7 linked regions of the Homo sapiens genome follow. The protein of the gene in region 1 purifies or fractionates together with the protein of each later gene. This does not show direct contact. Each region holds a gene or a part of one and is shown in the gene's direction. Other genes may lie near its edges. The genes, in order: UNC93A, TUBGCP2, TNPO1, ECPAS, BZW2, NT5C3A and ICMT.

Region 1 (3,500 bases):
AGACACACTAACTGCTTTATTCCGAATTCACCTGCACTTTTCTCCCACCAGCTTCAGAGGAGGCTCCCAGGGCAGCAAGCCTGTGGCTGGCGGTTCCTGGGAGCTGTGGCGGCCTCCAGCCTGGGGGACACTGAGGACCTGCTGGTGCCTCATCCCGCTGTGTCCATCCTGTGCTCTGACAGGGCTGGCTTTGTTCCCACAGAGCAGCCTGTACAGCGAGGAGGGCCTGGGTGTCACAGCGCTCAGCACCCTCTATGGAGGCATGCTCCTGTCCTCCATGTTCCTCCCACCGCTCCTCATCGAGAGGCTGGGCTGCAAGGGGACCATCATCCTCTCCATGTGTGGCTACGTGGCCTTCTCCGTGGGCAACTTCTTCGCCAGCTGGTACGCAGCCACCACCCCCTGCCCACCCCACCCCGGCCGTTCCCCACGCTAGGGACGTTCACTCTGCACATGAGTTGCATTTGCACCTGATTACTGTTCACTGCAGGCATTTTAAAATGAGCTCTCCTGCCCCTGCACCCCCGCCTCGCTTTGGTGACAGACGGTGCTGGGCTTCCTTCCTGTTTTCCCACCAAGGCTCCTCTGTGCCCCCCACTGCTTCTGTCTCCTCCTCCCGATCCCCGATGCTGGCCTCTCCCTGGGATCCGTCCTGGTCCTCAGCTCCCCTGGCTGGGCGAGGGTTCCAGTAACACAGGGGACTCTAACTGCAATGCAGATGGTGAGTCTCGTGGGCACCTAGGCAGATGTCACCAATGGACCGAAAGCTGCACCTCGCCCACCATTAGGAGGTGGGTATGGCCAGGGCAGGTCACAGGGATGGGAGGCCACCCTGCTCCCTGGTGAGATGGACCACAGAGACTGAGCTCTGAGGGCTTTGGCCTGCACCCCAGGCCCCGGGAACACAGCCATGGAGCATCTCTTCCAGGGACCCTGGTTGTGCCAGGACATGCTGCTGATGATGGCTGCAAGTCCTTCTTCCCGGTAGCTGCAGAGTCTTACATGGCATGCCGCCGCTGAGGCCCGAGCCGGTCACTAGGTCTTTTTAACCGGGGCTGTCCCTCGGCCTCCCTCGTGCTCCTCGCCTCCCTCGTGCTCCTCGCCTCCCTCGTGATCCTCGGCCTCCCTCGTGCTCCTCGCCTCCCTCGTGCTCCTCGCCTCCCTCGTGAACCTCGCCTCCCTCGTGATCCTCGCCTGCCTCGTGCTCCTCGCCTGCCTCGTGCTCCTCGCCTCCCTCGTGCTCCTCGCCTCCCTCGTGATCCTCGCCTGCCTCGTGCTCCTCGCCTCCCTCGTGCTCCTCGCCTCCCTCGTGCTCCTCGCCTGCCTCGTGCTCCTCGCCTCCCTCGTGATCCTCGCCTGCCTCGTGCTCCTCGCCTGCCTCGTGCTCCTCGCCTCCCTCGTGCTCCTCGCCTTCCTCGTGCTCCTCGCCTCCCTCGTGCTCCTCACCTTGTTGTTTGCAATCGCATCCGATACAAGGAGCCTCACTGGCTTCAATTTCACTTTTGCAAATCAGTCCAAGCTAGGAAATGCACTGATATTGCTCATTTTTCTGAGTGTAATGGTGAATCCATCCATCCAACCAGCAACACTCATCACCACGCTTGCAATGGGCCAGGCGGTGGTTCCTTCTCCCAGATTGACTAAAGAACTGCAGGGACATGGGTGCAATGGGCTTGCGTCTCCTGTTACAGGCTATGGGTCTGCATTTTACCCACAGGTACACTTTGATCCCCACCTCCATACTGCTGGGACTCGGGGCCGCCCCGCTGTGGTCTGCACAGTGCACATACCTCACGATCACGGGAAACACACATGCAGAGAAGGCGGGAAAGCGTGGCAAAGACATGGTGAACCAGTATTTTGGCATCTTCTTCCTCATATTCCAGTCATCCGGTGTGTGGGGCAACTTGATCTCATCGCTGGTATTTGGCCAGACTCCCAGCCAAGGTAAAAGGAAAAGGGGCAAGCAATTGTCTCCAAGTGGAGCAGGGGTTTCAGTGATGGGGGAGAGGGTTCCTGATTTCAGTTGCACACCTGCCTTGATTCTGTAACTTGAGCAGGTGAGTCAGGCCCCACAGGTGAGATTCTCAACCTGCCTGTGCTTCAGAGTTGCCTGTTACCTGCTGTCTTCTGGACAGTCGGGTGGGACTGAAGAAGATCTGCGTCTTCCACAGGTGCCTCCGCAGGGGCAGGGGAGCCCTTGGGAGAGGGCGCCATGGGAAACTGAGGGCCACGCCAGTAGAATTTGTGTTCATGGAGTCTCAACTGCACAACTGTCCTTTTTAGACTAAGGATGGGGTTGCCTGATTTCTTTTCCCTGTGACTTGATACAATGACCAGATTTTCAAATGTTTTATGACAGGCCCCTTATCCCATGACAGATGTGGACATTGGATGGGCTGATGCCCTGGCTCCTCTGTCTCTACCCGACCTTGCCCTGGTATAAATATAAAGTGCATATCTCATTTGTGCCCATGACCTTAGTGCCCACGTTGAGGCTTTAAGCACAGGGCAGAGGACATACATCTCTTTCATGCTTACAGGAAAACTTTCCCAACGGGGTAAAAACCAATCCAGCCCTCCTGACTAGTATCACAACTATTTCTATCACTTCATCAAGGTTCTCCATCTTGCTATCCCATAAAAATCCCACGCTTGGTAAACTCTGTAGCCAAAACCCCTCTCCCTTTTTCTCATGCGATGTCATGCCTGCTAAGTGCATTTGAAGAAGGGAAGCCGTGAAGGTGATGCATAGCAATTTTTACTCATTATTGCTGTTGGTGTCAGCAACAATGAAACAGAAACTGGGGTTACAGCTCAGTCTGCATATCACGGCCAGTGAAGTGGAGGAACAGGCATTTCTTTCGAAGACCTTTCTGCAGGTGAGTTAGTTCTCCAAGTCAGCACAGGACACAGAATCTGGGGCTGGAGGGATTTGGAGGGCGTCGTGTGCTTCTCCACCTTCTTGTACCTTCTCTTATCAGCTGCACATCTCACCCACCTAGAAGATTTTGTGAAGCTGTCTGTTATATAATTTGTGTTATTAAAATAATAAAAACACTGAATATTCTTTCTCCCACCACATCTTTCTCCTTTCCCCAGAGATTCTGACAGGACTTCTGACTGAGAGTCATTGCTAATTCAAATTGTATTTTTCTAAGAGATCACAGAACTAACGTTAGTTTTCAAAAACAGAAAAGTTATGAAATCACCTGCCCAAAGTCATTGAGTTGGTAACAGATGAATCTGAAAGAGAATCCAGCATTCCTGGCACCCAATCTCATGTACTTTTTTCTTTTTGACTAATTTTGAAAACTTGAAAAATTTTAATTATGTCAGAAAAGCAGTAAAACAAGTAACCAGCACTTTTCCAAGTTCATTCTTCCCTGAATCTTTGCAGAACACGAATAGGATTTTCCACCTCCCAAAGTGTCTTAAATCGAGTCTAGGGACATGTGCCTAGACTCGATCTAAATCTATTTTGAGACACTGGGTCTTTC
Region 2 (3,369 bases), on another chromosome or scaffold:
CAGTGTGGAGCCAAGAAGGCCCACGGTGGGGGTGGGCATGGCTCACGCACCCCGGCTTTCTTTCCAGCACCTGGCTGAGCACGCAGACACTGTGCAGCTGGTGTCCGGCTTCGAGGCCACCATCAACAAGTTTGACAAGAACTTCTCAGCCCACCTGCTGGACCTCCTGGCCCGGCTGAGCATCTATAGCACCAGTGACTGTGAGCACGGCATGGCCAGCGTCATCTCCAGGTGGGTGGGCGCCACCCCGGCTCAGCCCTTCCTCAGCTCAGTCCAGCGCCTGCCCCTGCCCAGCACCGCCCTGGCTCAGCCCTTCCTCAGCTCAGTCCAGCACCTGCCCCTGCCCAACACCGCCCTGGCCCAGTGCTGTCCCTGCTCAGCCGTCCCCCAGCTCAGCCCAGCACCTGCCCCTGCCCAGCACTGCCCTGGCCCAGTGCTGCCCCGGCTCAGCCTTCCCCCAGCTCAGCCCAGCACCTGCCCCTGCCCAGCACCGCCCTGGCTCAGCCCTTCCTCAGCTCAGTCCAGCACCTGCCCCTGCCCAACACCGCCCTGGCCCAGTGCTGTCCCGGCTCAGCCTTCCCCCAGCTCAGCCCAGCGCCTGCCCCTGCCCAGCACCGCCCTGGCCCAGTGCTGCCCCGGCTCAGCCTTCCCCCAGCTCAGCCCAGCGCCTGCCCCGGCTCAGCCCTTCCTCAGCTCAGCCCAGCATCTGCCCCAGCCCAGCGCCACCCCAGCTCAGCACCTGTCCCTGCATCCAGGCCCCATCTCCCCTGCACCCTCCCCTGGTCCACCTGGTGTAGCCTCCTTCAGAAGGTGGGGCAGGTCTGTGTCCTGGTGCTAGTGCTGGTCATATGCCACTCCCTGAAGTCAGGCTAGCCCAGCTCTCCCTGGGGTGTGACATTCTGTGCAACTGGGCTGCCCCATTGGCACCCTGCGGCTGTGTGTGTCCTGTGGGGCTGATCAGGCCTGGGTCAGCTTCCCTCATGCTGCACTAACACCTAGCCTGGGGGAAAGGGCCAGGTGGCCAAACTGCCAGCCTGGAAGGGGTGGTGCCCTTGGGGGTGCTGTCCTTGGGAAGGTGCCTATTTGTGCTTTTGGACCACCCTGTGCCCTGTGCCCCCCACAAATGTTCTGATTTTCTGAGCAGGGATTTCTGAGGCCACCCTGCATTGAGAACCACTGCTTGGTTCTCCAAGCCCCTGACACCTCAGGCCCCATTGCTAGGCCCTGTTGGGGTGATGGGAGCCCCAACTTTCTGGGGCCAGGAGAGAAGAAACCTGTGTTTGTGCCTTTGAGCAGGACTGAACAGGACTGAAAACCTTCCTGTGGAAACATTAGTTAGGAGCGTGCCTCACCCTCACCCCTGCAGGGCCTCTTATGGTCTCTGTAGCTGAACACTTCCCCATGGTAGGAGCAGGGCTGCTCAGGACGGACCCGCAGAAGGAGTGTGTGCCCCAGCTCCACTGTCCTTCCTCACCCCTGCTGCCCAGCACGCACCCGCAGAAGGGGTGTGCACCCTAGCTGCACCGTCCTTCCACACCCCTGCTGCCCAGCATGCACCCGCAGAAGGGGTGTGCACCCCAGCTCCACTGTCCTTCCTCACAGGCTTGACTTCAATGGTTTCTACACGGAGCGCCTGGAGCGCCTGTCTGCAGAGAGGAGCCAGAAGGCCACCCCCCAAGTGCCTGTCCTGCGGGGGCCCCCGGCTCCTGCACCCAGGGTCGCAGTCACCGCACAGTGAGCCCTGGCTGTGACAGGAAGGAAGGGTGTGGGGTCAGCAGGGACTGGTGCAAATGGGTCCAGAATTTTCAAATCGAATGCTCTGTGTTCTGTCTTTGCAGTTTAAATATAAAGCAGGAATGATTGACTCAGCTCACTTTGTTTCTCAAGGCGCTGGGTTTCGTTTTATAGAAGCTGCCCAGGCAGGGTGGATGTCTCCCTGGATTTGCTAATCTGTTTGCTTTTTGAAATTACACTATCACCTTTTTGGGTGTTTTTGGCCTCAAAGTGGAAATACATGGTGTTTAAGCCAGGAGCAAGCAAAGATGCATGTGGGGTAAGATCCAGGCCTGGTGTCCACATCTTTCCGGGTGAGCTGGGGCCGGGCTTCCTGAGGTCTGTCGGAACCGGGACAAGCCTCTGGAAACGGTCAGGGAGTTGTGGAAACCCACCGGGCATCGGGTGTCGGGTTTGCTTTGGCCCCAGAGGCAGCCCCGTTCCTTCTCCTGAGGACTCACCCGCCTCCACGACCCTCCTCCTGCTGCTGCTCCAACTGGTCCAGGGCAGGAGGCCACAGACAGGGCCCTCAGGCACCCTGGGAGCCCACACCTCCCCCTCCGTGGGAGTGGGTCGAGGGGCAGGCTCTGCTGCTGGCTGGAAACCCCACCCCGCCCTATCCGGTACCGCCTTGTTACGTAGAACTTACTCAGCAGACTGACACCCAATCCCCCTCGGGCGATCATCTGCCCTGTCTTCCCACCTCCAGGGCTACAGTGGGCAGCACCGCCATCCCCAGTGTGACAGGGCCCTGGGAGCCTCAGGGCTGCCCGGCCAGGTTGGTCTGCTCTGGTTACATTCTGGCCAAGCTGCCCCTTCCTGCTGACCTGCATGTGTATTGTTGTCACCTTCAGCTCTCAGCACCTCGGCCCCCTTGGGCAGTGAGGAAGGGCCCTGGAGGCGAGGTTGGGAGAAAGGATAGCTAGAACAGGATCCTGCGGGGAACAAGGGTTGTGGGCAGCTCTCACCCGGGGCTGCCTCACTGAGAGCACCGCCGAGTGGGGGTGGGGGTGTCCAACTCTCCAGCCACAAACCGCTTCCTCCTTGTCTGCAGGCTGTGCAGGTCTGGCCTGTGAGTAAACACATTTATCAGCAACCCAAGCTGTCAGTCTCAGTGTTGTGCAAATGCCGGACTGGTGAGCAGAGGAGCCTGCTAGCTTTCCTGCCTGGCCCCGAGGCCCAGAAACCCCTGATCTTGTGTCCTGGGGTCTGGGAAGCCCTGGGCCTTGAGAAGTGGGGTTTGCAGGTGGTGATAGGAGGAGGGGAGGGAAGCCTCCAGGGCTGTGGGGTTCAGGCTCCCAGACCCCCCGGCACCTGCTGAAGAGGAGAGCTGTGTTCTGTGGGATTGGGTGGAACTTCCTCAGCGCGGGAGGAGCCTGTTCTGGCCCAAGCTGGTCCTGTCTTTTTAGGAATAAATCCCTGGTAGCTCAGCGTCGGCAGGGGCCTTGCTGTGCCTCTGATGTGGCCAGCGTGCCGCCTTTGCACTTTGCTGTTGAGTAACTTGCACCATGAGGTCAAGGAAGGGAAGTGTGATTGCCAGCTGGCCATTGTTCTATAATAACAGGGTCACCTGCATGAGCTCAGGCACAGGCCAGT
Region 3 (3,500 bases), on another chromosome or scaffold:
AACAGATGGCTTAGACCATTTTAGGAAATTCCTGATTGGGTAAAACAGAACATAAACATTTTAGCAATTAAGAGTTAGATATATCTTACAGTCAATAAGTATTCTTTTTTTTTTTTTTTAAACAGTGCCTTTGCTACCCTAGAAGAGGAGGCTTGTACAGAACTTGTTCCTTACCTTGCTTATATACTTGATACCCTGGTCTTTGCATTTAGTAAATACCAGCATAAGAACCTGCTCATTCTTTACGATGCCATAGGAACATTAGCAGATTCAGTAGGACATCATTTAAACAAACCAGTAAGTATCTGTTAAGAACTATTAGGGAAAATAATGTGTAGCATAGTTACAATTAATAGATTAGCATATATTTGGAAATTAAGATGTTTTGGGAGATGTGAATAGTTAGCGTTAGCTACTTTAAGAGTATAGATCTTACAAAGGCAGCAAGTATATCCCCTTTCATGTGGTATTCTTAAAGTAAATACATACTTGGTGTGGAAACTACAGCAGCATTTCACATGAATGCTCTGATACTTTTTAGAATGACTAAAGCAAAGGGATAAAAAAGTTTTTATAATCTGGATATCTGCTTTTACTTAATTCCTAATGTTTTTGAATCTACCACTTCATAAACACTGTAGCTTTAGAGTACCATATCTAGACATCTTTGTTTTTTCAGCAGGTACGGGGAGTATACTGTATAAAACAAATAGAAATTGGGGTAGTAGGTTTAAAAATGCTAAATAGTAATGCAAAAGTGCCTTGTTTCCAGTAGTGTTAGTAGAAGAGGAGGATGGATTTGTCTAATGAGGATTTAAGTGATAGTAGAATTTTAATATAGCTCCACATACCCTGCTGAATAGACTTCTATATGATTGCTATATCCAAAGTCTTAAGAAATTGTTTTATTTTTAAGTTACACTTAAGATTTGGTACAGGGCAGTTTATAGGTTTGCTTTGCTGTTGGTTGTTTGGTTTGGCTTTTGTGGGGGTTTGTTTTCTGAATGTCTTTAGAGTCTGTGCCCCTGTTTACATGATCACTATGTTTAGTCGTTTTATGGATCATTCTTTAGTTTGACACTTAAATGATTTTAAGTTTGTTTTTCTACAAAAGCATCTGTGTAAGTTTACCTGTTGATTTAAAAATGTACTATATAGTAACAGCCATATTACACGTTACAGTTCCATGACTAAAAGGAATTTTTTTGTGTGTGACAAGGTCTCACTCTGTCACCTAGGCTAGAGTGCAGTGGTGTGATCACAGCTCATTGCAACCTCCACCTCCCGGGCTCAAGCGATCCTCCCATTTCAGCCTCCCCTGTAGCTGAGACCACAGGCGTGTACCACCATTCCTGGCCAACTTTTTGTAGAGATAGTTTTGCCATGTTGCCCAGGCTGGCCCAAACTCCTGGGTTCAAGTGATCTGCCTGCCTCAGCCTCTCAAAGTGCTGGAATTACAGGTGTGAGCCACCATGCCCAGCCCCAGAACTAAAAATATTCTGTAACTTAAAGAGAAAAACTTAGGTCTGGGCACAGTGGCTCACACCTGTAATCCCAGCACTTTGGGAGGCTGAGGTGGGCAGATCAAAAGGTCAGGAGATCGACACCATCCTGGCTAACACGGTGAAACCCTGTCTCTTTAAAACTACAAAAAATTAGCCGGGTGTGGTGGGGGGTGCCTGTAGTCCCAGCTACTCGGGAGGCTGAGGCAGGAGAATGGCGTGGACCTGGGAGGCGGAGCTTGCAGTGAGCTGAGATCACGCCGCTGCACTCTAGCCTGGACGACAGAGCAAGACTCCGTCTCAAAAAAAAGAGAAAAACTTAGATCTTCCTTGATTGTGACTTTTTTAAGTAATAGATTTTGATTAGCTGTGTGTTTATTGATAGACTCTTTTTTTCAACAAGGATAAAAGATCAGTAGATCACTAGTTCTAGATCTAAAACTAGAACACGGTCATGTAAGTATAAAGGTAGGCAACAGAAAGGAAAACTTTAAAAGGGACTGTGCAGAGTGAAGAATGACTCTTAAAATGCCTTTTGTAATGATTTTACACAATTGCTCAAAATGGATTTTAATTTTCAAAGACTCAAAATGGTCTTGTTGACATGTGATAGTGGAATTTTATATGTTTTTCATCATTGTAAATAGGAATATATTCAGATGCTAATGCCTCCACTGATCCAGAAATGGAACATGTTAAAGGATGAAGATAAAGATCTCTTCCCTTTACTTGAGGTATGCAGGGCTAGTAATATTTAATCTGTTGCCAAGAACACATGTTCAAATCCAAAATGGGTATATATGATAAGAAAAGTGTTAATAAATTTATATTCTGAAGTAGACGGAGGAAATTATATGATACATACTGTTCTCTAACCTGCTTTACTTAATTGATAATAAATTAGAGTTTTAAGTTCTCTTATGTTATCTACTCTCTATATAGAGTAGATAGCATACTACTCTATATAGTATAGAGTAGATAACATACTGGGAGGATATATATACCGGGATATATATATATATCTTTTCACTCATACATATATGTTGAGTAGTGGGATTTGGTGCCAGTAAGGAGGTACTTATTTTCAAATTTGAAAATGTTTCCATGTGTACTTAACTACTTTTTTTTTTAACACCCCTTTCATTGCAAACTTTTATATGATGTTCTCGTAACTGAACACACTGTGAAATGTAGTCACTTAAACTTAGTTGAATTGACATTGATAGAACCAGTTCAGGCCTTTTCATTCTTGCTCCCTGTTATTTCAAGGTTCACCATCTTCTACCGTGGATTGTTCTTAGCCAAAGAAGTTAAATTTTCTATGACCAAGAGCAATTCTGGGCCCAGCAAAACAAGAAGAATCATTATGGTTCATTTTTTGTATGCAGTCGTCCCTCAGTATCTGCAGGGGATTGTTTCCAGGACTCCCCTTGGATACAGAAATCCAGCGATGCTCAAGTCCCTTATATAAAATGATGTGGTATTTGCATATGGCCTATGCACCTCCTCCCAATATACTTTAAATCATTTTAATTGTTTTTCTAAATACTTTTGATTCAAGATTGGTTGAATCCATAGATACAGAGGGCCAACTGTATATATATTACTTTCCGGCAGGATCTCAGAATGTGCCCAGTAAAGTCCATTCACAACATTGACCAGGATGGGAGCATGAAATGAATCTCTTCAATTTGAGGGAAAAATATGAACACATAATACTCAATCTGTCCTTTAAAGATAATGTTTCTTGTAGAAACGCTTCCTCTGAGTAAACCTGACCTGATTGGCTGGCAAACTAACAACAATGAATGGCTTCCAAAAGAGAGGGTTGGGGTGGGGGGAGGGGAACCTGCTACTGTAGAAACTAGTAGAGCAAGCTCATAAATGATCAGGATCCTGTTGAGCGCAGTTTCAAGCATTCATCATAATCTTCAGTATACCCAGAAAGTTTAGCATGTGTACTTTATTCTTCCTAGTGCCTATCTTCAGTTGCCACAG
Region 4 (3,500 bases), on another chromosome or scaffold:
CTTATGGGATGAGTCAAGCAGCTGTTGTGACTCCAGTTTTTTCTTAGTATATTTCTCTTTTCTTCTCTGTTACTAAGTGGAATAAATAATTCCCCAAATACCAGAAACAGTTGGTCCAAATTTGTATTACAAGAGACAACAACATATCAAGAGCTCTCTATAAATTTACATCTGTAGTCTTTTGATCTGCCTATTTAGAAAGGTTCAGAGTTGTGCCTGTGCCTAATAGTTATCTTTGGGAGGAACTAGGAAAGTTATAAGCTGTGGAGGTATTTAATGAAGTAGGTAACATAAAGGTATGTGAAGAGATTGGGCAATGTCGATATGTTGTTTTAGTCATAGGAAGGCATTTGCAGTAAAGGGCTGCTTGGCATTCTGAGGTTCTGATTTCTAAACTTCCTGGAGTCTTGGTAAAGTTACTCTGTTGTGCATTCCCTGTAATGGTTAGTTAGCTATGATTGTGTTTACTGGAAATTAGTTTGCTAAGCAGATCTGTACCTTTAGCAGGACTCTGAAGGTATAGATCCAACCCCTAAAAAAACTGAAGTGTACAAAAAACTATGTTAAACTGGTGAAGAGAAGTAGCTATTTTTTAGTGCCTGCTGGGGGAGTATTACCAAAATTTGGTCTAAGAATGTTATGTCTTAGTTGGATTATTGGGGGGAAATAAAAATTTAAAGAAATAGGAATAGTTAGTGAATACCATTTAGTTATATTCATTAGTAATAGAAAACATGTTAATTGCATTTTCAAAAATAAAGGCCAGCAATTTATAGGAAAAGTCATCTAAGAAGTTGACTCATTAGAGGGGGTTTGGTAGGGTAGGCCCACTGTAGAAGATCAATATTTAGTTTAGGTTTTTTATACTAAACATGGATTGATAAAGAGGAAGTAGGCCCAGAAAGATTCTTCATTCTTGAGTAATCATTATTTTTCTTTTTTAGCAAATTGATGTTTTTCATTTTTTTGTTTGTTTTTAGTGTTGAATCACTGATGAATAATTTTTCTGTTTGTAGTACAATAGTGGTTTTAATATTGAAATCAGAGCAGAAGCAAGCAGTGATTTTTCAACTTCATGTCAAATCCAGTTGGTACACGTTTGACAAGGGCAGTTTTTAATTGAAGATGTGGTCCTGACTTATTTGCCAAGGCTTACCTTTATATTTGTCCTTTTTCAAAAGTGCCTGCAATACCTTGATGTGTCAGTGCTGGGCGAGCTAGTTCCTAGGTTGTGTGAACTGATCAGAAGTGGTGTAGGTCTTGGAACTAAGGTAAGTGTACTTTCCACAAGAGGAAATGTGCATCTTCATTAGTTCTGGCCATAAGGATATAACAGCCATCATGTTTGAAATTCATGTTTTACCACAAAATCTAATATTATACACTAACCATTTTATTTCTGTGGTTGCACTGATAACTGAAAACATGTAACTGGTTCAAGAAATAAAACATCTAACTGTTCCAGTAAGTATTAACTTATTTAGTGGAATCATTTCTGTTCTCTGGTTGCCGTGTACATACCCTCTGGGTTGTCATTCATTAGCAGTTCATGGAAATGCACATCCAGTTATTAGGGCATGGATTGTTTTAGGTGGCAATTGCATTTTTCACAGAGGGGTCAGCAGTGTTTGAATAGAAAAATGTCCTAGTTTTCAAGATCTTTGAAGGATCAGACACCCCCCTACCACCCTTTTAACAACAAATTAATAACTCACATTTTTTCTTATGACAAAATTAACACTTGCTGGTATTTTAAAATTTTAGCATTTATAGATTAGGAGAAAGTTAAAATAAAAATTGTCCAGAATTTTGCCATACAGAGATAACTGCTGTTAATATTTTGAAGTGTTTCCTTCCAGTCTTTTCTGCACATGTATCTTCTGCAGTGTCCTCTTCTAATGGCCGTATGATACTCCACTGTATGGATGTAACATCATTTATTTTACTCCATCAAGGAACATCTGATTTGTTTTCAGTTTTTGAAAAAAATAGTAAAGCACTGTGATGAGTGTCTTCAGGCACACCTGAAGATATTTGGTTAAATTTCTGGAAATGGAAATGTTAGCACAGTGATGGACAAGATGACATATTTTGCTTTTCCAGAAGATTGTACCAGTTTTCTTTCTTTTTCACAATGTCTGAGATCACCCATCTTTCTCTTGGAGGTTTAAAAAAAATCGCTGCATTACTAGTTTAAGAGTTTGCCTTTTTCTATATTGAGTCCTGGAGGGGGTATTAGGCTTCATGTATTTTATATGTTTAAATTTTTGGCACCTAAGCCAATGGTTTGGTAGGTAGAACATTGTGACCATCAGATTTAGACCTTTGCTTTTGTAACCCTGTAGGGTGGCTGTGCCAGTGTCATTGTGTCATTAACTACTCAGTGTCCTCAGGACCTAACACCTTACTCAGGTGAGTTTGTCAAGGGATGTGTGGTGATATTTTTGCACAGCCCTGTCTTGTGTGACAGAGTTTTAAAAAGGAAAAATACTTATCATTCAGACCTGCTTGTGATGCTGTGTGCCTTTTCTCCCCTCAGTCCCCTGACTCCTTCATTTCTTTGTCTGCAGGAGGTGCAGAGTTTATCAAGTTTAGCAGCTTTTCACTGTTCATAAACATTTGATTATTCCTTAGTGGTATAAGGAGGTAAAAGTATCCTCTTTTCCACAGGACTTACCATTGATAGCTGATTTTACATCAGCATTTTTCTCTTCTTAGATTGGCTTCTAGACTGGACTAGTGTTCTTTATATACCTCGTTCTTATTTTGCATCTTTTTCCACGATATTCTAGTTTAATTTTAACTTTATATCATGTAAAAGGAAGCAAATGGATATATAAATATAACATCCAGAAATCTAAACTACTGTGGAGTAAATCAGATGTTAATTACAGGGTTAGGTTTGTTTGGGTTCTGGGAACAGAGTGGAACATTTGGTCAACCAAGTATCAGATTTTTTTCTCTTTATTTCTGGTAGGTAAACTTATGAGTGCTTTGCTGAGTGGCCTGACAGATCGGAACAGTGTGATTCAGAAATCTTGTGCATTTGCTATGGGCCATTTAGTTCGGGTGAGTTAAATTTCTTGCTTAGTTAAATAAAACTCTTTGACAGTTATAAAGAAATACTTAGGATTGTTTCTTTTTCAGACCTCACGGGATAGCAGCACTGAAAAACTCCTGCAGAAGCTCAATGGGTGGTATATGGAGAAAGAAGGTACCTTTCTTTTTCTATTTTATGTCATTTTAAATTTAGATGTTAACAGCCCAGTAAAACAGTACAAATTAGGTCTTACCCTCCATGATTTTATGTGATTTGCTAGAAACATTTGTTTCTTTTCTTTTCTTTTTTTTTGAGATGGTGTCTGGCTTTGTCGCTGAGGTTGGAGTGCAGTGGTGCTATCTCAGCTCACTGCAACCTCAGCCTCCTGGGCTCAAGCGATTCTTGTGTCTCAGCCTCCTGAGTAGCTGGAACTACAGGCACGTGCCACCACGCCTGGTTA
Region 5 (3,500 bases), on another chromosome or scaffold:
AAATTGAGAAATATTTATTTTTTCTCATCAAGTTAACAAATTTATTCCTTAAACGTGTGTTGAATCGATACTATAGGGCAGGTCTTTCATTAAATGCTGGAAATGAGATGAACAAAATATAGTCCCTGACTTCCTGAATTTCAGGATGTAGAAGAAAACAAAGAATTACACTCACCATGTCAATTGCTGAAATAAGCCTCACACAGAGGGTGTCAGAAGGGATAGGACCACAGAGGGAGGGCACCTAACTTGTTAAAGGTAATTTGGAGGGGGAGAAGTGAAGGCTCTCAAGGTACATGTATCTCACCAGACATTATGAAGAAGTTGGCCAGATAGAAGGGGAAAACATATATTCCAGTCTCTATGTGCCATCATACAATGTCTTCCTTTCTTACTGTCTTTTACTGTTATTCTATATTCCTAATAGGCATTTATGAAATATCCCACCAAAAATGGTTTCTCAGTTTTAATTAACTCTTTTCCCTACTTTATCCTTAGTGAGGGAAAAAATTGTCTGAATTCTTTGTCCCTCAAGGAGTTCCTTCCTTTTCAGACCTTTCCTTTCACTAAATAGAAGTTTAATTTCTTCTTAAACTCTTCGATGTTCATACTTTGCCTCATATGGTGCTCTGTGTAGATACTTCAGTAGCTTTTAATTAATAATTCTCTGGTACTAGAAGTTTGATCTTTCAGCAAGTAGTTGTTACTACCCTGGGTTCTTCTAAGAACTCCACATTGCGCCGTTAATATGTAGACTTATTTTAAATTCTCCTTCCTATTCTTAACATTAAATATTCTCAATTAATGGTAACTTAAGAATATCAAGGCACAAGATTTGCAATAAACAATGCATTTGATAGGTTTTACCTATCATTTAGTGTGCTTTTCACAAGCACTGACATTGACAAGCATTTTAGTAGTTGCATGGTCTCCTTCAGCCTCTGTGAGGCAATAAAACACAGGAATGTGCTCTCAACCTTCAAAAGGAAAGCTCAGACAAATAGTATCACTAAACTGCAGTCTACATCAGCTTTCCAACCTGTACTTTGTATCATCCTCAATTCATTAAGGTGTGGAGAAAAAAAACAATTCTCCTTTCCATGTTTGTCACAGTTTAAAATTATATTGTTTGTGCAGAACATTAATAATGATAGTTTAATAGTGCATGAATATAATTTATAAACTCAAAAATATACATATGTTGGGTGTATATGCTCAAAATTATCCTACAGGCAGGAAGACATGATCCAAACAGTTTGATAATTACTGATCTAATCATAAGCATCTTAAAGATAATTTACAAGTTATATAAAAGGGTCTTTTAAAATCCCTGTTAATGTTCTTTAAAAGTCTCTGCAAGGCAGTCTTACACAATAACAGGTCACTTCCTCGGGACACAACTGCCTGCTCCTCAGCTCTATGACAATTAGGCTCTGATGGCTGGTAGAAATTTCTTTTATCTCAGTGGAGAGCTGGAAACAAAGAGCTAAAATAACTAGAAGCTAAGAATAAGTCTACAGGACCCCTGATTGTAGCTCTTACATCCAGGCTCTATAAGTAAATCCAGACTTCTTGCTTCCTTTGCAAAATGTAATGTTTTTAGTGATGATAATAAACATGTTTTTTTAAAAAACCTTTTATTTTCATAAACAAATCATGTTCATTTTAGTCAGCTCAGCCTCTTCAATTTAATTCAAGAACATTTTCCAAGAGCCAATAATTCTTTAAAAATAAAAAAAGCCAATGTTTTTGTTATGAAACTACCAGTGATGTTTTAAATGAAAACAATATTAAATTGTTTCTGTCATTTTCATAAGTTGAAATTATATTTTAACTGAAAAGATATCATTAAAGTAATTTATTAACATTATATGGCTTTATCAGTATTTGTAATGAATTGAGCACATCTCGGGGACAATAATAAATGCTTTGTACCTGTTTTCTGTCTCGTTTCCCACTACAGATTCCCAAACAACAACCCATTAGAACATTGGAACATTAGAAGAATGTTAGAACAACCCATTAGAACATTGGGAGACTATGTACACTTATTTTTATATTCTCCTTCCTATTCTTAACATTAAATACTCTCAATTAATGTTATGTTGAGAATATCAAGGCACATTTGTGGAATTTAGAGTTTTAGACAAAAGATAGTTAACATTTTTTGTTGTTTTTAGAAACCTGTAGGAAATTAGCTAATATGTCTATTTTGTCTTAATGTAGTAGAGGAAAAATATTACTCTTGTAATTTGGGATATACTGTGGGAAAATAAGTCGTGATTTAGTGATGGAGAAAGTGTAGAACTTCAGTTTAGGTGTGTATTACTCCCACAACATAGCCCAGAAGTTCCTCTTTATATCTAATTGCTAACATCATTATTGCATACTATCTACATTTTTTTCCTTTGTCATTTTTCTCCTAAAAAAAGAAAATCCCAATCTCCTTAAAAGACACTGGTCATTTGAGGTTACTCTTTAATCAAGATATGGTTGAACTTGGCAGGACCCAAAATGTTCTAAAATGCTGGAATTGCTGGTTCATTTGCAAAATTACAAAACAATTCTATTTCCTACCAGCAAATTAGCACTGTGAGAGATTTCCAAGTCCTAGTAGTGAGCTATAGGCTTGCATTATATCATGCCTAAGAAGATGTATATCATCATCATCAGTACTTAAGCCTTTAGTAAGCTATCAAAATATGGCACTATGCTACATGAAAATCAACTTGGTTCCTCTCTTCTGATAAGTAACAGAATGCTTTATATTTAAAATGATTGCTTTCTATTAAACTGTAATACATGAAGTTGTTTTGAAACATGACATTTGTATAGTAACTTTGAAATCTTTGATTTAAAATTGCAGCTGATGTTCTGAGCGAAGAAGCAATACTGAAATGGTATAAGGAAGCACATGTTGCTAAAGGCAAAAGTGTTTTTCTTGACCAGATGAAGAAATTTGTTGAGTGGTTACAAAATGCAGAAGAAGGTATGATTCTGTTTACAAACATTGATGACCTTTAAACACTGTCTCATTATATGTCAAAATATTTACCTCTTCCACAGATTTTACTTGATTTTCTAAAACTAAAATTCTAGAGTTATCTTTCGTATCAAACATTTTGCCAACATCTTAGCTTTCCTTTCTGAAATCACGGCAATAAAAATCTCTACATGTAAAAACAAAGAAAGAAATGAAATGCTTAAATTATCCACTCTGATGGAGGACAATAAGGAAGAAATGATTAGTAGATGTGAAAGGAGAAAAATACATTTAGCTTAATCACGCATTATGGAATTCTATAGATTTTTATGACACCTTTACCAATTAACTGGCAATTTTAAATAATGGAAATATAAAGTGGAAGGATAATAATGAGTAAGAGTGAATTCAGGCCAGGTGTGGTGGCTCACACCTGTAATCCCAGCACTTTGGGAAGCAGAGGTGGGTGGATCACCTGAGGTCAGGAGTTTGAGAGCAGGCTGGCCAACATAGTGAA
Region 6 (3,500 bases), on another chromosome or scaffold:
GAATGGTAAGTGTATATTAGGCAGTAGGAGGATTAAAAAAAAATAATAAAACAACACTGCAGTTACAACTGATGGCTTATTTTTTACCTGTATTGCAAACAAACAGATTAATAAATTATGCAAGTTAGAGCATTGAATAACAAAATGAGCTCTAATTATCTAATCTCTCTAACAGTTTAGGAATCCTTTTGTTTTGTTTATTTAAGGTGAAGTCCAGTAGGAATAAATTAAAAGTCCTGCATTTAAGTCTCAAATTAAAAACAAGAATTTTTTTTTAAGTATATGAACAAAACGTGGCTTAATGTGTAAAGAAAAGGTATGAGGATTTAAACTGAGTCTGAACTCAGAGCCAGCAGGTGATATGGTTACCCAAAAATCGACCTTTGGTTGCATTAATCAAAATGCAGTGTTCCAGGCAGATCACACTGAAAGCACTGTGTCGGATTCTGGAAGAATGCTGTTAAGAGAAACCATGACAATAGTGACCAAAAAAAAAAAAAATAGATCATGACAAACTTAAAAGGAGTCAGAGTAGTCCACCAGAATGATCAGAGGAATTTGAGCCTTCCCACTTGACGAACATTTCAAGGAATAGAAAATGCTTTGATTTGAGAAGGAACAACTTGTTTTAAAATCTTAGGAGACCAGGAATGATTTGTCTTTATTGTCCCGTTACGTAACAGTTGCATACTTCATCTGTATTTGTGGTACTAAATGTTGAAAAGATATTAGACTTAACTCTACAAACTGGTAGCAGCAGAACTGGAACTAGACTTGGAAGATATAAGAAGATTGATTTCAGCATGAGAAATGAAAAGCCTGTCTAGCAATTAAGAGTTTTCTGGCAATGGAATAAGCTTCCCTGGGAGAATGAGCTTACTGACATGTTAGAAGCTGACCCAGGCAGGGAAGAAGGTGACTTAGGAATATTATAGGGGTATTTTTAGGTATCAGATGAAGAGTTAGGCTTTTTTTTCTTTTCGTTTCTTTCTTTCTGTTTTTAGTGGCTGTTTGCATAATTGTAATGGGTTAGAGAGTCTAAGGGCCCTTTATACTGAGATGCTATGATTATAGGTGTTTTCTACATAAAGCAGGCTAATCTGTATATGACACTTGCCATAACAAAGATTTTCTCTCTTGTTCACTAAGTAGCATCTTCAGTATGTAGAAAATTCAAACTACAAACAAATTTTAAAAATGGGGTTGCTCTAATTCATTTTACTGCAATCAGAGAAAGGATTATGCTTCCATAGGTTGGGTTGAGTTTTTATGTGTAGAATTAGGAAAGGTTTATAGCTAGTTTCCTTTCATTACCTTACTAACATATTTAAGCTAAGTCTGGGTTTGGGAGGACTGGGAAACTCAGTAAGAACATGCATATCACATTTTGAGACATGAGGTATACATTCATTAGTGATGAACTTCAATCTCTAAAATTTAAATCCAAATATGAGGAACAGATTTTCTCACATGGAAGAATGTTTTGTAATAAAGATAATAATTTTAGTTTGTCTTAATTGATAGTCTTTTTTCCTTTGGTCATAAACTCCAGGTATACTAAATCACATGGTTTGCTTGTTCAGCAAGCTTTACCAAAAGCTAAACTTAAAGAAATTGTGGCAGAATCTGACGTTATGCTCAAGTAAGTTTCTTGGATGTTTTTTGCTGTTATTGTTCACAGACTTGAATTATTGCTATTTATGTAGTCAGTTGTACTTTTTAAAAATAAGATTGAATATTCCTTATATAACCATATCCAAAATATGCCACCTATCACAAAATACATAGTGGTAAGATAAGGAATTTAGAATGACGTATTAGATCTTGGTGTAGGTAGTAAGAGCCTTATGAGATTTAAATTCTAATTTGTATTTTGTTTCTCCAGATTAAAAATGTCAAGACTTAAAATTTTTGAACCAAGGCCATTTAAAAATTTTTTAGCAAAATACTTAGGAAAGACATATGAAAGGAATGTATAAATCAAGTTAAAAGGGATTTAAGTATACTTTTTTTTTTTTTTAAAGACAGGGTCTCTCTCTGTTGCCCAGGTTAGAGTGTAGTGACATAATCTCTTCCTCAGTTCAACCTCTGCCTCCTGGGCTCAAGCGATCCCCTTGCCTCAGCCTCTCAAGTAGCTGGGACTACAGTCATGCACCACCATGCCTGGCTAATTTTTGTATATTTTTGTAAAGATGGGATTTCACCATGTTGCCCAGACTGGTCTTGAACTCTTGAGCTCAAGCGATCCCAAAGTGCTGGGATTATATGTGTGAGCCACCATGCCTGGCAGTATACTATGTCTAAATTTACATAAGCCTACTTTTTAAATTCTCGAACTTCTTTGAAAACTATTCCTAGGAAAGATTAGTATGTTTTAGTACATAATTATATATGTATGCATGAGTTATAAGATACAAGAAGCTTTTTTTTTTCTTTTTTTTTTGAGATGGAGTCTCGCTCTGTCACCCAGGCTGGAGTGCAGTGGTGTAAGCTCCGCCTCCCAGGTTCACGCCATTCTCCTGCCTCAGTCTCCTGACTAGCCAGGACTTCAGGCGCCCGCCACCACGCCCGGCTAATTTTTTGTATTTTTAGTAGAGACGGGGTTTCACCGAGTTAGCCAGGATGGTCTCGATCTCCTGACCTTGTGATCTGCGCATCTCCGCCTCCCAAAGTGCTGGGGTTACAGGCGTGAGCCACTGCGCCCGGCCCAAGAGCCTGTTTAATACTGTTTATTACCTCGTAAAATTTTCAACTCATTAGGCAAATATGATGATGTTACTTTTTTATGATGATGTTATATTTTAAGGTGATTACTTCTAAAAAGGAAAGCAATAAATTGTCAGAAAAAGTGTGAGGACAGCTAGTAAGTGTTTCATTCCTTAGTAGGCAACATTAGCATTCTTTAACCTATGGCCCAGGAAGGGTAAAAAAGGGAAGAGGGCTTAAGATCTTAGTAAAGACACATGCCAGATGTCGAGAATACATCTAAGTTCCTGCCACTCTGCTTTTCTTTTCAATTTTATGGATTTTGATGAAACTGTAAGAATATCAAGTCATTCTTCATAATTTTAAAATCTGAAAATATTTTAATCATGTAAATGTATTTGTTGTTGGTCAATATATATCCATTAAGTTAGGCCAAGTTGATAGGCCCACTATGGGACTCCATCCTTCTCAGTGTTAATATATCCATGTTTTAACCCCTAAGTGGGGTTTTCAAGGTGTAGCTTAACTATTGTTTTCTCTTTTTAAATTTCATTTTAGAGACAGGGTCTCGCTATGTTGCCCAGAGTGGACTAGAACTCCTGGGCTCAAGCAATCCTCAAGCCTCAGCCTCCCAAATAGCTGGGACTATAGGCATGCACTGCTATGCCTGCCTATTTCTTTTTAAATGGTATAAATTGTGAACTGTAGGTTTATATTCATATTCAGTGAAAGCTTAAAGACATCTAGTTTGTAGTATTAGAATTGATTAAAGGGAAAGTAAAGAGTTAACTGTT
Region 7 (3,500 bases), on another chromosome or scaffold:
CTCTTGTTGCCCAGGCTGGAGTGCAATCATGTGATCTCAGCTCACTGCAACCTCTGCCTCCCGGGTTCAAGCGATTCTCCTGCCTCAGCCTCCTGAGTAGCTGGGATTACAGGCATGCGCCACCATACCCGGCTAATTTTGTATTTTTAGTAGAGACGGGGTTTCTCCATGTTGGTCAGGCTGTTCTCGAACTCCCAACCTCAGGTGATCTGCCTGCCTTGGCCTCCCAAAGCGTTGGGATTACAGACATGAGCCACCATGCCCAGCCCCTGGCTAATTTTTGTATTTTTGTAGAGACGGGGTTTTTCCATGTTGCCTAGGCTGGCCTCGAACTCCTGCGGTTGAGTGATCTACCCGCCTCGGCCTCTCAAAGTGCTGGGATTACAGGCGTGAGCCACCACATGTATTTCTTTTTCTTTCTTTTTTTTTTTTGAGACAGAGTCTCACTTTGTCGCCCAGGCTGGAGTGCAGTGGTGCGATCTTGGCTCACTGCAACCTCCACCTCCCGGGTTCAAGTGAGTCTCCTGCCTCAGCCCCCGCGAGTAGCTGGGATTACAGTTGTGCACTACCTCGCCCAGCTAATTTTTTGTATTTTTAGTAGGTTTAGTAGGGGTTTCACTGTGTTGGCCAGGCGGTTCTCAAACTCCTGACCTCAGATGATCCACCCGCTTCAGCCTCCCAAAGTGCTGGGATTACAGGCGTGAGCCACTGCATCCAACCCGCATATTTCTTTTTTAAAATTACTATTTGGCTAGGCACAGTGGCTTTGGGAGACCAGAGCAGGAGGATTGCTTGAGGCCAGGAATTAGAAACCAGCTTGGCTGGCCGGGCATGGTGGCTCATGCCTGTAATCCCAGCACTTTGGGAGGCTGAGGCAGGCAGATCATGAGGTCAGGAGATCAAGACCATCCTGGCTAACACAGTGAAGCCTCATCTCTACTAAAAATACAAACAATTAGCCTGGTGTGGTGGCACGCATCTGTAGTCCCAGCTACTTGGGAGGCTGAGGCAGGAGAATGGCGTGAACCCGGGAGGCGGAGCTTGCAGTGAGCCGAGATCGCGCCACCGTACTCCAGCCTGGGCGACAGAGCGAGACTCCATCTCAAAAAAAAAAAAGAAAAAGAAACCAGCTTGGCCAACATAGTGAGAACCCTTCTCTCCAGAGGAAAAAACTAAAAATATATCTGGAAGTTGTAGTGTGCACCTGTAGTCCCAGCTACTCAGGAGGCTGAGGCAGGAGGATCGCTTTGATTGCTGCTGTACTCCAGTCTGGGCAACAGAGTGAGACCCTGTCTTAAAAACAGAAAACAAAATTATTTATTTGTGTATTAAAGATGAGATCTCGCTGTGTTGCCCAAGCTAGTCTCAAACTCCTGGGTTCCAGCAGACCTTCTGCTTTTGTCTCCTGAGTAGCTGGGACTATAAGTGTGCACCACCATGCCCAGCTAACTTTTTGTTTTTTGTAGAGATGGGGTCTTAGTGTTGCCCAGGCAGATTTTGAACTCCTGGGCTCAAGCAGTCCTCTCACTGCAGCCTCTCAAAATGCTGGGATTACAGGCATGATCCACCATGCCCAACCCAAAGCCTTATTTCTTTTTTTTTTCTTTTTGAGACAGAGTCTCGCTCTGTCGCCCAGGCTGGAGTGCAGTGGCGCAATCTCGGCTCACTGCAAGCTCCGCCTCCTGGGTTCACGCCATTCTCCTGCCTCAGCCTCCTGAGTAGCTGGGACTACAGGCGCCCGCCACCATGCCTGGCTAAATTTTTTGTATTTTTAGTAGAGACGGGGTTTCACTGTGTTAGCCAGGATGATCTCAATCTCCTGACCTCATGATCCACTTGCCTCAGTCTCCCAAAGTGCTGGGATTACAGGCGTGAGCCATCGCGCCTGGCCGCCTTATTTCTTGAAACTGTTTCTTGATTCTTTACTCTTGGTCCTAGAAAAACTTGGCCAAAGAATGTGAATAGATCTTGGAAAATTCACGAAGTGTTTGGGAAAAGTCTCCAAGTCTTTGGGCAAATCCAGAGATCTCTCAGGCATCCCATCAGCAATGCATGGTCCTTGGTGACTCTGGTGACCCCTAACGGTATAGGTGGGGCAAATGATCACATAGCATTTACAATTTTTGTTTCTGAAACATGTAAAACCGCCACATTAACAATCACCTTCCCTGGGAACAAATTAGTTATGACTGAATAATGTAATTTGCCATAAATGCTTGCTTCCTGTATATGTGTGTGCACTAGAACCAAAGGGTTTTCCATACCTTTTTGCCCATAGATTTTTTTTACATTGTGCTCCAGCACTTGTGTGTGTATGAAAGGAACATGTCTTTCCTGATATAATACTTACACTTACTGTTTACAAAATCCTGTTTTCTATCTTATTATTTCAATACTGTTCATAATGTACTAAATGATTTCATGGCTTAGTAACAGGCTGCAGCCTGCTATAGAGAACTCCCACTGTAGGGTATCCCCAGCAAGCTATGCCAGATGTGAGGGTACAGGCCCCGGAGTCACTGACTGGGCCAGTCCTGATTCTGACATTCACTGCTTGGCCTCCTTCTCCTCTCATGTTAAAGTGGGGGCAGCTAGACATAGTGGCACATGCCTGTAGTTCCCCCTACTCTGGAAGCTGAGGCAGGAGGATGGCTTGAGGCCAAGAGTTCAAGTCCAGCCTGGGCAATATAGTGAGACCCTGTCTTTAAAAAATAATAAAATTTTAAAAAAAACAAAGTGGGGATAGTAGCGTGCCCTCAAAGGTTTGCCATGAGAGTTGAACAGGGTAATGATTGTAAAGGGCTTAGCATGGCGCTGGGAACATAGTAAGTGCTCAATAAGAGAAGGTGTGAGAGGTCAGGACATGAGCCTGGCTCTCCGGGTGGCTGTATTGGAGCCTAAAATATATATTCAGAAAACATACAGAAAATGTATGTTGGGGAAGATGCACATCCACAGGGGACCAGTGGGCAGGTGTAGGTGAGTGGTTCCCTGAGGAGCTGGGGAATGCTTTTGGCCTTGAAGGACTGTTTGGCTGGAGATCAGTGGGAAGGATGTTCTTTGTTTTTTTTGAGAGGGAGTTTCGCTCTGTCGCCCAGGCTGGTATGCAGTGGCGATCTCAGCTCACTGCAACCTCTGCCTCCTGGGTTCAAGCAATTCTCCTGCCTCAGCCTCCCAAGTAGCTGGGATTACAGGCTCCCACCACTACGCCCAGCTAATTTTTCTATTTTTGGTAGAGACGGGGATTCGCCATGTTGGCCAAGCTTGTCTCAAGCTCCTGACCTCAGGTGATCTGCCCTCCTTGGCCTCCCAAAGTACTGCAATTAACAGACATGAGCCACCGTACCTGGCCAGGATGTTCTTAAAGGTGGAAGAAAGGGCCAGGAGTTCGAGACCAGCTTGGGCAACATTGTGAAACCCCATCTCTACAAAAAATACAAAAATTAGCTGGGTGTGGTGGCATGTGCCCTTAGTCCCAGCTACTTGGGAGGCTGAGGTGG

The links.
Region 2: the proteins of UNC93A (region 1) and TUBGCP2 purify together in Homo sapiens (affinity purification with mass spectrometry; one large-scale study listed by BioGRID and IntAct). This does not show direct contact.
Region 3: the proteins of UNC93A (region 1) and TNPO1 purify together in Homo sapiens (affinity purification with mass spectrometry; one large-scale study listed by BioGRID and IntAct). This does not show direct contact.
Region 4: the proteins of UNC93A (region 1) and ECPAS purify together in Homo sapiens (affinity purification with mass spectrometry; one large-scale study listed by BioGRID and IntAct). This does not show direct contact.
Region 5: the proteins of UNC93A (region 1) and BZW2 purify together in Homo sapiens (affinity purification with mass spectrometry; one large-scale study listed by BioGRID and IntAct). This does not show direct contact.
Region 6: the proteins of UNC93A (region 1) and NT5C3A purify together in Homo sapiens (affinity purification with mass spectrometry; one large-scale study listed by BioGRID and IntAct). This does not show direct contact.
Region 7: the proteins of UNC93A (region 1) and ICMT purify together in Homo sapiens (affinity purification with mass spectrometry; one large-scale study listed by BioGRID and IntAct). This does not show direct contact.

The regions. Positions count from the first base shown.
Region 1 is NC_000006.12:167,294,315-167,297,814, forward strand, and holds part of UNC93A (protein unc-93 homolog A), read left to right. Parts: intron 1-202; coding exon 203-384; intron 385-1,717; coding exon 1,718-1,947; intron 1,948-3,500.
Region 2 is NC_000010.11:133,278,135-133,281,503, reverse strand, and holds the end of TUBGCP2 (gamma-tubulin complex component 2), read left to right. Parts: intron 1-67; coding exon 68-231; intron 232-1,602; coding exon 1,603-1,738; 3' UTR 1,739-2,869; downstream 2,870-3,369. UniProt on the Homo sapiens protein: Component of the gamma-tubulin ring complex (gTuRC) which mediates microtubule nucleation.
Region 3 is NC_000005.10:72,889,661-72,893,160, forward strand, and holds part of TNPO1 (transportin-1), read left to right. Parts: intron 1-125; coding exon 126-297; intron 298-2,149; coding exon 2,150-2,236; intron 2,237-3,478; coding exon 3,479-3,500. UniProt on the Homo sapiens protein: Functions in nuclear protein import as nuclear transport receptor. Serves as receptor for nuclear localization signals (NLS) in cargo substrates.
Region 4 is NC_000009.12:111,372,884-111,376,383, reverse strand, and holds part of ECPAS (proteasome adapter and scaffold protein ECM29), read left to right. Parts: intron 1-1,181; coding exon 1,182-1,271; intron 1,272-2,345; coding exon 2,346-2,412; intron 2,413-2,977; coding exon 2,978-3,069; intron 3,070-3,147; coding exon 3,148-3,214; intron 3,215-3,500. UniProt on the Homo sapiens protein: Adapter/scaffolding protein that binds to the 26S proteasome, motor proteins and other compartment specific proteins. May couple the proteasome to different compartments including endosome, endoplasmic reticulum and centrosome.
Region 5 is NC_000007.14:16,701,681-16,705,180, forward strand, and holds part of BZW2 (eIF5-mimic protein 1), read left to right. Parts: intron 1-2,866; coding exon 2,867-2,989; intron 2,990-3,500. UniProt on the Homo sapiens protein: Translation initiation regulator which represses non-AUG initiated translation and repeat-associated non-AUG (RAN) initiated translation by acting as a competitive inhibitor of eukaryotic translation initiation factor 5 (EIF5) function.
Region 6 is NC_000007.14:33,017,777-33,021,276, reverse strand, and holds part of NT5C3A (cytosolic 5'-nucleotidase 3A), read left to right. Parts: coding exon 1-5; intron 6-1,552; coding exon 1,553-1,642; intron 1,643-3,500. UniProt on the Homo sapiens protein: Nucleotidase which shows specific activity towards cytidine monophosphate (CMP) and 7-methylguanosine monophosphate (m(7)GMP). CMP seems to be the preferred substrate.
Region 7 is NC_000001.11:6,225,965-6,229,464, reverse strand, and holds part of ICMT (protein-S-isoprenylcysteine O-methyltransferase), read left to right. Parts: intron 1-3,500. UniProt on the Homo sapiens protein: Catalyzes the post-translational methylation of isoprenylated C-terminal cysteine residues.